3 separate regions of the Homo sapiens genome follow, and all the other regions are linked to region 3. Evidence: fine-mapped expression QTL. A gene starts in region 3. Each other region holds a variant in brackets. All regions are shown on one strand. Distances are between the middles of the regions. Region 1 has its middle 6.1 kb from the start of PLK3. Region 2 has its middle 3.1 kb from the start of RPS8. Region 3 holds the start of KIF2C (kinesin family member 2C).

What was found. PIP is the estimated chance that this variant, and not a neighbour inherited with it, causes the effect.
Region 1: its variant is the best candidate, but not a certain one, in a credible set for the expression of KIF2C in thyroid (GTEx, PIP 0.54).
Region 2: its variant is the best candidate, but not a certain one, in a credible set for the expression of KIF2C in whole blood (INTERVAL, PIP 0.81).

What each region holds. Positions count from the first base shown.
Region 1 is chr1:44,792,189-44,796,434 of GRCh38, forward strand. It overlaps a transcript of BEST4 not described here. Among named protein-coding and RNA genes, the nearest start is that of PLK3, 6.1 kb to the right of the region's middle. RefSeq lists enhancers at 1-174, 867-1,556. The variant G/A (reference allele first, on the strand shown) is at 2,406.
Region 2 is chr1:44,770,303-44,774,548 of GRCh38, forward strand. No RefSeq gene overlaps it. Among named protein-coding and RNA genes, the nearest start is that of RPS8, 3.1 kb to the right of the region's middle. The variant A/G (reference allele first, on the strand shown) is at 2,367.
Region 3 is chr1:44,737,894-44,742,139 of GRCh38, forward strand. It overlaps KIF2C (kinesin family member 2C), which reads left to right and starts at 1,944. Exons shown (of 21, transcript NM_006845.4): 1 at 1,944-2,109; 2 at 3,020-3,114. The coding sequence starts at 2,040. RefSeq lists an enhancer at 1,595-1,764.

The sequences.
Region 1 (4,246 bases), 54 kb after region 3:
CCGAGATCATGCCATTGCACTTGAGGTCAGGAGTTCGAGACCAGCCTGACCAACATGGCAAAATCCTGTCACTACTAAAAATACAAAAATTAGCCGGGCTTGGTGGCAGGAGCCAGTAATCCCAGCTACTCAGAAGGTTGAGGTGGGAGAATCGCTTGAACCTGGGAGGTGGAGGTTACAGTGAGCCCCAATCATGCCATTGCACTCCAGCCTGGGCAACAGAGCAAGACTCCATCTCAAAAAAAAAAAAAAAAAAATTCCCCATGGGAACACGGGGATGATAATGCCTATCACATGGAGTCGTTGCGCATATTAGGTGAGTTAATAGTATAAAGTGCTCACAATAGCACCAGGTGAGTGGGAAGTGCTACCGTGGCTATCAGCACATCTCTTATTTCAGGTTGGCTTTATCCCTTCCACCTCTGCACCCACCAAGGACACCTGCCATCTCCTTATTGCTGAAGCCAATAGCCCTTCCCAAGTCCTAACCTTACCTGGCATCTCTTGTTCTTGACCCTCCTCCGTTGGCCTCTGTGACCTGACACTCAAGAGATTCTGGCCCAAGCACGGTGTCCAGGAATTCGAGACCAGCCTGGACAACATGGCAAAACCCCATCTCTACAAAAAATACAAAAAACTAGCCGGGTGTGGTGGCGCATGCCTCTAGTCCCAGCTACTTGGAGGCTGAGGTTGGAGGATCGCTTGAGCCAGGAAGTCGAGGCTGTAGTGAGCTGTGATTGCACCACCTGCACTCCAGCCTGGGTGACAGAGCAAGACGCCATCTAAACAAACAAACAAACAAACAAACAAACAACAACAAAAGACAGAAGAGGAAGACAAGATAATAAGCTCACAGCCCCAGCCTGGGTGTGGGCCCACCCAGCCAGTTGAGGAAGCCACAAGACAACAGCAAGAAAGGCCAGATGGGATTTCATTTTGTGCCTGAGTAGTGGCCCCTGGCTAGGGTCCTGTGTGGCAGAGATTAGAGAGGTAACATGGCCATGGATCAGACAGCCTGAGCTCAACCTTAAATCCCAGCCTGGGAAGAGAAGGGAACCCAGTCTTAGGCTCAGCACCTACGTGCTTGGCAGGAGCTCCTCAGCTTTGCGGAGGAGGCTCTAGGGAACCAGGCCAGGAGGGCAAATCAGCTTTCTCTTGCAAGGAGCCTGTCCTGGCCCCTCCTTCCCACTAACTTTCCAGACCCACTCCCTGGCTATATTGTCAGACTTCACCTGAACTCACCAAATTCAAAACTTAGGTCAGCTTGGGAACTTGGCAAATTGGGGAAGGGGCAAGTAGACCTTCACTCCTCCACACACATTGCAAAGCCTTTGGAGTTCTGGCCCCTGGACTGTTCCAGTCACCCTTCCCCTTTCCTCCAGCTACTCTGAACTTTCAGCTTTTTCAAGGACCAACAGCTCTCACTCCATGCCTTAAGGAGCACAGGGTTCCTCTTATGGAATACTTTCTCCTCCTGTCCATTACTGTTCCTGGCTAACTCCTCCTCAGCTCTCAGGTTTCAACTTAGAAATCTCAGCCTACGTACATTCCCCAAACTGGGTGTGATCCCACCTCTGGGCTCCCATAGGCCACCTCTATACCCTGTCTGTCTTCACCACTTAGCACTAATTACAGTCCAGTGTCCTTGTCCTACCGACAGGTCACGCCAGGGTGCAGCACAGGACCTGACACATAGAGGCTGCTCAAGAAAACGTTTGTTGAAAAAATGAACAACTGGCCTGGCTCAGTGGCTCATGCCTGTAATCCCAGCACATTGGGAAGCCGAGGCAGGCGGATCCCTTGAGGTCAGTAGTTTAAGACCAGCCTGACCAACATGGTGAAACCCATCTCTACTAAAAATACAAAAATTAGCCAGGCGTGGTGGCGGGGGCCTGTAACCCCAGCTACTCAGGAGGCTGAGGCACAAGAATCTCTTGAACCCGGGAGGCGGAGGTTGCAGTGAGCTGAGATTGTGTCACTGCACTCCAGCCTGGGCAACAGTGCCAGACTCTGCCTTAAAAAAAAAAAAAAAAAAAAAAAGGCCGGGCGCGGTGGCTGACGCCTGTAATCCCAGCACTTTGGGAGGCCGAGGCGGGTGGATCATGAGGTCAGGAGATCGAGACCACAGTGAAACCCCGTCTCAACTAAAAATACAAAAAATTAGCCGGGCGCGGTGGTGGGCGCTTGTAGTCCCAGCTACTCAGGAGGCTGAGGCAGGAGAATGGCGTGAACCTGGGAGGCGGAGCTTGCAGTGAGCCGAGATGGCACCACTGCACTCCAGCCTGGGCGAAAGAGTGAGACTCCGTCTCAAAAAAAAAAAAAAATTAGCTGGGTATGGTGGTGCGTGCCTGTAATCCCAGCTACTCGGGAGGCTGAGGCAGGAGAATCCCTTGAACCTGGGAGGC[G/A]GAGGTTGCAGTGATCTGCCATCCTGTCACTGCATCACTACACTCCAGCCTGGGTGACAGAGCGAGACTCTGTCTCAAAAAAAAAAAAAAAAAAAAAAGCTGGGTGTGGTGGTATGCACCAGCTGTAGTCCCAGCTACTTGGGAGGCTGAGTTGGGGGGATTGCCTGAGCCAGGGAGGTCGAGGCTTCAGGGAGCCATGATTATGCCACTGCACTCCAGCCTGGGCCACAGAGTGAAACCTTCTGTCAAAAACAAAAAAACAAAAAAACACAGTGTGTTAGATCTTGCTAGACTTGGTGATATAATTAAGAGGCCATTATGGGCAGAACTGTGCCCCCTTCCAAAATTCATATATAAATATATATAAATATATATAAATATATAAATATATATAAATATATAAATATATATAAATATATAAATATATATAAATATATAAATATATATAAATATATATAAATATATAAAAATATATAAATATATATAAATATATATAAATATATAAAAACATAAAAATATATATAAATATATATAAATATATAAAAATATATAAATATATAAATATATAAAAATATACAAATATATAAATATATACATAAATATATATAAATATATATAAATATATAAAAATATATATAAATATATAAATATATATAAATATATATAAATATATATAAATATATAAAAATATATATAAATATATAAATATATAAAAATATATATAAATATATAAATATATAAATATATATAAATATATAAATATATAAATAAATATAAGTATTTATGAATATATATGAATATATAAATATATAAAAAATATATATAAATATATAAATATATATAAATATATAAATATATACATATATACATATATAAATAAATAAATATAAGTATTTATGAATATATATGAATATATAAATATATAAAAAATATATATAAATATATAAATATATATAAATATAAATATATAAAAATATATAAAAATATATATAAATATATAAATATATATAAATATATAAATATATATAAATATATATAAATATATAAATATATATAAATATATATAAATATATAAATATATAAATATATATAAATATATATAAATATATAAATATATAAATATAAATATATAAATATATATAAATATATATAAATATATAAATATATATAAATATATATAAATATATATAAATATATATAAATATATAAATATATATAAATATATATATAAATATATATAAATATATAAATATATAAATATATAAAAATATATAACAATATATAAATATATATAAAAATATATAACAATATATAAATATAAATATATATAAAAATATATAACAATATATAAATATAAATATATATAAATATATAAATATAAATATAAAAAATATATATAAATATATAAATATATATAAATATATAAATGTATAAATATATATAAAAATATATAACAATATATAAATATATAAATATATAACAATATATAAATATATAAAAATATATAACAATATATAAATATAAATATATATAAAAATATATAACAATATATAAATATAAATATATATATAAATATATAAATATAAATATAAAAAATATATATAAATATATAAATATATATATAAATATATATAAATATATAAATGTATAAATATATATAAATATATAAATATATAAAAATATATAAATATATATAAATATATATAAATATATAAATATAAATATATAAATATATATAAATATATAAATATAAATATATAAACATATATAAATATATATAAATAAACATATATAAAGATATATAAAGATATAAAGATATATAAATATATAAATATATAAAG
Region 2 (4,246 bases), 32 kb after region 3:
TTATGCACATAGTATTTCAGTGGAGAAGACAGATAATGTGCATGTAAACAAATGATAGGTAGTAAGTGGGTAGAGAAAGATGAGAGAGTGTTGCTGCTTTAGAAAGCAGACTCAGAACTGTGGCCTGAGCAGTATAATGAGACCCTGTGTCTAAAATTAAAAAAAAAAAAAGGCCGGGCGTGGTGGCTCAAGCCTGAAATCCCAGCACTTTGGGAGGCCGAGGCAGGCTGATCATGAGGTCAGGAGATCGAGACCATCTTGGCTAACACGGTGAAACCCCATCTCTACTAAAAATACAAAAAATTAGCCAGGCGTGGTTTTGGGCACCTGTAGTCCCAGCTACTCAGGAGGCTGAGGCAGGAGAACGGCATGAACCCGGGAGGCAGAGCTTGCAGTGAGGCAAGATCGCACCACTGCAGCCTGGGCAACAGAGTGAGACTCCGTCTCAAAAAAAAAAAAAGAAAACACTACCCTTCTGCTCTACATTCCTTTCCAGCCAACAACCTAATTCTCTCTTTCCCCTTTAAAGTCATACCTCTCAAAATAATTGTCTACATACATTGGATTTTTTAACTTCCCATTCTATTTCAAGTTTTTTCCCACTGTACTGTACAGAAACTGCTCTCGCCAATATCACCAAGGACTTTCGGGTTACTAAATCCAATAATCACCTTTTTTTTTTTCTTTGAGACGGAGTTTTGCTCCTGTCGTCCAGGCTAGAGTGCAGTGGAGTGATCTCGGCTCACTGCAACCTCTGCCCCCCAGGTTCAAGCGATTCTCCTGCCTCAGCCTCCAGAGTAGCTGGGACTATAGGTGTCCACCACTGCACCCAGGTAATTTTTGTATTTTTAGTAGAGATGGGGTTTCGCCATGTTGGCCAGGCTGGTCTCGAACTTCTAACCTCAGGTGATCCACCCCCTTGGCATCCCCAAGTGCTGGATTACAGGCGTGAGCCACCGCACTGGCCTAATAATCACTTTTTAGTCTCATTTTAACTAGCATTCACAGCAGCATTAAGCTACGGCAGCACCCTGTGTTGGCTTTCCTCTAGTCACTCTAATTTCTCTTTCTGTGTCCTTTGCCAGCTATCTTTCTCTATCTGGCCTTGAAATGACAACATTCCTTTGTTTTTTTGCGGGGTGGGTATGGAGTTTCGCTCTTGTTGCCCAGGCTGGAGTGCAATGGTGCGATCTCAGCTCACTGCAACCTCTGCCTCCTGGGTTCAAGCGATTCTCCTGCCTCAGCCTCCTGAGTTGCTGGGATTACAGGCGTGTGCCACCACGCCTGGTTAATTTTGTTATTTTTAGTAGAGACGGGGTTTTGCCGTGTTAGTCAGACTGGTCTCAAACTCCTGACCGCAGGTGATCTGCCCATTTTGGCCTCCCAAAGTGCTGAGATTACAGTCGTGAGCCACCGCACCCAGCCGAAATGTAGATATTCCTAAAGCCTTGGACCTATGTTTTTTCTTGTATTTTTTTCTTTCTTTTTTTTTTTTTTTAATAGGCAGCTGGAGAGGCTGCTTAGGTCAATTATTTTCTTTTTTCTTTTCTTTTTTTTTTTTTTTTGAGACAGGGTCTTGCTCTGTTGCCCAGGCTGGAGTGCAGTGGCATGATCATAGCTCACTGTGACCCTGAATTGCAGGCTCAAGCAATCCTACAGCCTCAACCTCCCGGGCAGCTAGGACTACAGGCACATACCACCATGCCTGGCTCCTACATATTTTTTTTTTTGAGATGGAGTCTCGCTCTGTCGCCAGGCTGGAGTGTGACGGCGTGGTCTTGGCTCACTGCAACCTCCGCCTCCCGGGTTCAAGCGATTCTCCTGCCTCCCAAGTAGCTGGGACTAAGGTGCGCACCACCACACCCAGCTAATTTTTGGTTTGTTTTTTTTTTTTTTTTGAGACGGAGTCTCTCTCTGTCGCCCAGGCTGGAGTGCAGTGGCGCTATCTTGGCTCACTGCAAGCTCCGCCTCCTGGGTTCACGCCATTCTCCTGCCTCAGCCTCCCGAGTAGCTGGGACTACAGGTGTCCGCCACCACGCCTGGCTAATTTTTTGTATTTTTAGTAGAGATGGGGTTTCACCGTGTTAGCCAGGATGGTCTTGATCTCCTGACCTCGTGATCTGCCCGCCTCAGCCTCCCAAAGTGCTGGGATTACAGGCGTGAGCCACCGCGCCCGGCCTAATTTTTGTATTTTTAATAGAGACGGGGTTTCAACATGTTGGCCAGGATGGTCTTGATCTCTTGACCTCGTGATACACTTGCCTCAGCCTCCCGACATGCTGGCATTACAGGCGTGAGCCACCACCCCGGCCTCCTACATATTCTTTATAAGAAATGTTAAACACTATACTTTAGGGATCATTTCT[A/G]TAGTTTGTTGCTAGGGAAGTTTCTCTGAACATGTACAGCACTGCACAAAAATCAAATCAAAATGGATTAAAGACTTAAATCTAAGACCTCAAACTATGAAACTATGAAACTACTACAAGAAAACACTGGGGGAAATCTCCAGGATATTGGTCTGGGCAAAAATTCCTTGAACAATACCCCATAAGCACAGGCAACCAAAGCAAAAAATGGACAAATGGGATCACATCAAGTTAAAAAGCTTCTGCACACCAAAGGATACAATCAACAAAGTAAAGAGACAACCCACAGAATGGGAGAAAATATTTGCAAACTACCCATCTGGCAAGGGATTAACAACCAGAATATTTAAGGAGCTCAGCTCTAAGCAGGAAAAAACTAATAATCTGATCAAAAAATGGGCAAAAGATTTGAATAGACATTTCTCAAAAGAAGACATACAGATGGCAAACAGGCATATGTAAGGTGCTCAACATCACTGATCATCAGAGAAATGCAAATCAAAACTACCATATCATCTCACCCCAGTTCAAATGGCTTATTTCTAAAACACAGGCAATCACAAATGCTGGCGAGGATGTGGAGAGAAGGGAACGCTCGTACACTGTTGTTGGGAATGTAAATTAGTACAACCACCATGGAGAACAGTTTGGAGGTTCCTGCACTGCTGGGTATATACTCAAAAGAAAGGAAATCAGGTTGGGCGCGGTGGCTCACTCCTGTAATCCCAGCACTTTGGGAGGCGTAGGCGGGCAGATCACTTGAGGTCAGGAGTTCAAGACCAGCCTGGCCAACATGGTGAAACCCCATCTGTACTACAAATACAAAAATTTGCTGGCATGGTGGCCCATGCCTGTAACCCTAGCTACTTGGCAAGCTGAGGCAGGAGAATTGCTTGAACCCAGGAGATGAAGGTTGCAGCGAGCCAACATCGCACCACTGCACTCCAGCCTGGGCAACAGAGCGAGACTGTCTCAAAAAAAATTAAAATTAAAGTTAAAAAAGACGAATGGCGCCAGGTGTGGTTGCTCACGCCTGTAATCCTAGCACTTTGGGAGGCTGAGGTGGGCAGATCACCTGAGGTCAAGAGTTCGAGACCAGCCTGGCCAACATGGTGAAACCCCATCTCTACTAAAAATACAAAAATTAGCCAAGCATGGTGGCGCATGCCTGTAATCCCAACTACTCAGGAGGCTGAGGCAGGAGAATTGCTTGAACCTGGGAGGCAGAGGTTGCAGTGAGCTGAGATCATGCCACTGCACTGCAGCCTGGGTGACAGAGCAAGACTCCGTCTCAAAAGAAAAAAAAAGATGAATGGATAAAATGTGGTACATATGTACAATGGATTACTATTCAGCCATAAAAAAGAATGAGATCCCGTCATTTGCAACATCATGGGTAGAACTGAAGGTCATTATGTTAAGTGAAATAAGCTGGGCACAGAAAAACACACTTATGCAAAGAGAATCGCATGTTCTCACTTATTTGTGGGATCTAAAAATCAAAACAATTGAACTCATGGTCCTAGAGAGTAGAAGGATGGTTACCAGAGGCTAGAAAGGGTAGTGGGAGGGTAGGGGGAAGTGGGGATGGTGGGGATGGCTAATGGGTACAAAAATAAAATATCATCATAAATAAGACCTACTATTTGATAGCAAAACAGGGTGACTATAATCAATAATAACTTGTGTATTTTATTTTTTTGAGACAGAGTTTTACTCCATCACCCAGGCTGGAGTGAGTGCATTGGTGCCATCTCGGCTCACTGGAACCTCCACCTCCCGGTTCAAGTGATTCTCCTTCTTCAGCCTCCAGACGGAGTTGCTGGAATTACAGGCGCCCGCCACCACGCCCGGCTAATTTTGTTTTGTTTGTTTGTTTT
Region 3 (4,246 bases):
GATCGTCAAGAACAGGAGGCCGGGCTTGGTGGTTCACACATGTAATCCTAGCACTTTGGGAGGTTAAGGAGGGAGGATCTTTGAGCCCAGGAGTTCAAGACCAGCCTGGGCAACATAGCAAGACACTGTCTCTAATTAAAAAAAAAAAAAACCTCTCCCTTTCCCCCTCCCCCTCTCCCCGGTCTCCCTCTGATGCCAAGCCGAGGCTGAACTGTACTGCCGCCATCTCGACTCACTGCAGCCTCCCTGCCTGATTCTCCTGCCTCAGCCTGCCGAGTGCCTGGGATTGCAGGCGCGCGCCGCCGCACCTGACTGGTTTTCGTATTTTTTGGTGGAGATGGGGTTTCACCGTGCTGGCCGGGCTGGTCTCCAGCTCCTGACCGCGAGTGATCTGCCAGCCCTGGCCTCCCGAGGTGCCGGGATTGCAGACGGAGTCTCGCTCACTCAGTGCTCAATGTTGCCCAGGCTGGAGTGCGGTGGCGTGATCTCGGCTCGCTACAACCTCCACCTCCCAGCCGCCTGCCTTGGCCTCCCAAAGTGCCGAGATTGCAGCCTCTGCTCGGCCGCCACCCGGTCTAGGAAGTGAGGAGCGTCTCTTCCCGGCCGCCCATCGTCTGGGATGTGGGGAGCGCCTCTGCCCCGCCGCGACCCCGTCTGGGAACTGAGGAGTGTCTCTGCCCCGCCGCCACCCTGTCTGGGAGGTGAGGATCGTCTCTGACTGGCCGCCCCGTCTGAGAAGTGAGGAGCCACTCTGCCCGGCAGCCGCCCCGTCCGGGAGATGAGGAGCGTCTCCTCCCGGCAGCCGCCCCGTCCAGGAGGTGGGGGGAAAGCCCCCGACCGGCCAGCCGCCCCGTCTGGGAGGTGGGGGGCAGCCCCCTCCCAGCCGCCGCCCTGTCTGGGAGGTGGGGGGGGGGGGCGCCTCTGCCCGGCTGCCCCATTTGGGAAGTGAGGAGCCCCTCTGCCCCGCCGCCACCCCATCTGGGAGGTGTACCCAATAGCTCATTGAGAACGGGCCATGATGACGATGGCGGTTTTGTCGAATAGAAAAGGGGGAAATGTGGGGAAAAGAAAGAGAGATCAGATTGTTACTGTGTCTGTGTAGAAAGAAGTAGACATAGGAGACTCCATTTTGTTCTGTACTAAGAAAAATTCTTTTGCCTTGGGATGCTGTTAATCTATAACCTTACCCCCAACCCCGTGCTCTCTGAAACATGTGCTGTGTCCACTAAGGGTTAAATGGAAAAAAAAAAAAAGGAGGACAGGAACTATGTGTCTAGTTCATTATCTCCATTTCCTGGTACCATGCCTAGCAGGTGGTAGACTTCACTCAATAAATATCTGGTGAATCAGTGTCTTTCTGGAAATTTATACATAACTCCTTGAATGAGGCAACATGCTTCTGCACTATTTAATAAGAAAAACTAAGTCAAGTTTCTAATCTGTGGTTTTGTTTTGCTTTGAGAACAGGGTCTTGGCTATGTTGCCCTGTCTGGTCTCGAACTTCTGATCTCGAGCGATCACTCCCACCTCTCCCTTCCTAAGTGTTGGGATTAACAGGAGTGAGCCACCGCGCCCGGCCAAGTCTCCAACTTGCTCGAGGTCACTGAACTTGCAATTGAAGAAGCTACGATTCGAACCCATGTCTGTAGGATCCCAGAGCCCTCATTGTCAAATACATACTGAAGTTTCCCAGTTTTCGGGAACCCCGCAGTACAAGGTGACCGAGGACAATACCAGAAATGGGAGCCCCAGACCCCACGTAGCGGCGAAGTTCCCAGAAGGCACAGCGCTCGGGGGTGTGGCCAGACGCATGGGCGGTGCCAAGCGTAGGAAGATGGTTGGGAACTGCGTCTCCCCCAAGGCTCCGCAGGGCGCCGCTGACTGGCGGAAGCGAGGGCGGGGACAGCGGAATGACGTTTTAAGGACGCTTGCGCGCGGGATTTAAACTGCGGCGGTTTACGCGGCGTTAAGACTTCGTAGGGTTAGCGAAATTGAGGTTTCTTGGTATTGCGCGTTTCTCTTCCTTGCTGACTCTCCGAATGGCCATGGACTCGTCGCTTCAGGCCCGCCTGTTTCCCGGTCTCGCTATCAAGATCCAACGCAGTAATGGTGAGGAGCGGGGTCCCTAGGTCAAGGGGACTCGTGAGCGGTGAGACGACTGAAATTACTGCCCGTCCCCGGACACACAGATGGGCTTTCACTCTCTTTCTCTCCCTCCCTCCTTTTCACACGCACTCACTCCGGGTCTCTGCACTGGCAGTCATTCTTGCCTACACAGGGGTGAGAGTCCCTGCGCTGTACGTGGTCCCTTTCGCAGTCCTCTGGGAGTGGGCGGACCTTCTCCAAGGCTGGTAGACCTCCCAGGGAAGTTGGGACTTCTAAATTCACTTCCCTTCCAAAATTCTCCCCTGAAAATGCCCTGCTCTTATGGGGACCTCGGTCTCCTGGCCCCTTTACTCTCGAATAAATATTGCGCAGTTGCGGTATGTCAGGTAAACGGGACAGACAAGAACCCTGCGCTTGAGGAGCTTGTAGTCGTTCTCTCTTTTGCTTAAGCAGGTACCGCAGTTCTGGCAGGTCTGATACCCGTGTCATTAGGGAAATGGACAGATATGACCGCCAGAAATGAGTTAGGAAAACCCCAAAAGGGCCAGATCCTCAATGCTATGTTGAGGAAAAGTTCATCTAAGGGTTGTGGGGAATCCTGTGCTCAAACATACCTTTTGTATGTTCTCTTTTGTAGGCTCTATCTCTCTTTTTTTGTAGGCTCTCTTGAGTAGGGGTGAATCCTTATCCCATGCAGCTCAGTTTAAAAACCTGTCCCCAGCCCACCTCACTGTGGATATTCTAAAGGTGAAGCCCAGGAGATTTATTTGTTTCTCTTAGTTTTTTTTTTTTTTTTTTTTAAGGTAGCTGCCTGTTCCTTCAGGTTAACTCCACTTTGGGAATCTCTGTGGAATCCTAAAAGTGAAGCTCTCAGGAAAGAGATGGGTAACTCTGGTTTTTTCATACTTTATAGGTTTAATTCACAGTGCCAATGTAAGGACTGTGAACTTGGAGAAATCCTGTGTTTCAGTGGAATGGGCAGAAGGAGGTGCCACAAAGGGCAAAGAGGTAGGTTCTATGAGAATTCCTCTACCACATTTAATGTCTTCCTACATAAAGGATCTGTGCAGAAGTGGAATCTGTGAGAGCCTAGTTTCTGATGCTGTGCTCTTCTCACTCACGCCTGTAATCCCAGAACTTTGGGAGGCTGAGACGGGCAGATCACCTGATGTCAGGAGTTCGAGACCATCCTGGCCAACATGGCGAAACCTGTCTCTACTGAAAATACAAAAATTAGCCAGTCGTGGTAGTGCATGCCTGTAATCCCAACTACTTGGGAGCCTGAGGCAGGAGAACTGCTTGAACCTGGGAGGCGGAGGTTGCAGTGAGCCGAAACTGTGCCGCTGCACTCCAGCCTGGGTGACAGTGAGAATCTGTCTCAAAAAAAAAAAAAAAAAAAAATTGGCTGGGTGCGGTGGCTCTTGCCTCTAATCCCGACACTTTGAGAGGCCTGGTCTGGAGGATTGCTTGAGCTCAGGAGTTCGAGACCAGCCTGGGAAAAATGTTGAGACCTTGTCTCTACAAAAAAATTAAAAATTATCAGGGTGTGGTGGCTCACGCCTGTGGTTCCAGCTACTCGGGAAGCTGAGGTGGGAGGATTGATTTAGCCTGGGAGGTTGAGGCTGCACTGAACCATGATCGAGCCACTGCACTCTGGCCTGGGCGACAGAGTGAGACCTTTCCTCAAAAAATAAAAATGGTCTTCTTGGCTGGGCACAGTGGCTCACATGTATAATCCCAGCACTTTGGGAGGCCGAGGTGGGCAGATCGCTTTGAGCTCAGCAGTTCAAGACCAGGCTGGGCAACATGACAAAACCTCATTTCTACAAAAAATACAAAAAACATTAGCCGGGCATGGTGGTGCATGCCTGTGGTCCCAGCTGCTCTGGAGGCTGAGGCTGGAGAATTGCTGGAGTCTGGGAAAGCACAGGTTTCAGTGAGCTGAAATTGCACCACTGCTCTCCAGCCTCCTGGGCAACAGAATGAGGACTTGTCTCAAAAAAAAAAAAAAAAAAAAAAAGAATGGTCCCCTTCCAGATGCATTGGGATTTTATTTAGTCAGGTCCATTCTAAATTGAAGCAATCAATAATTTTCTGGGTTTTTTTTGTTTGTTTGTTTGTTTGTTTTGAGACAGAGTCT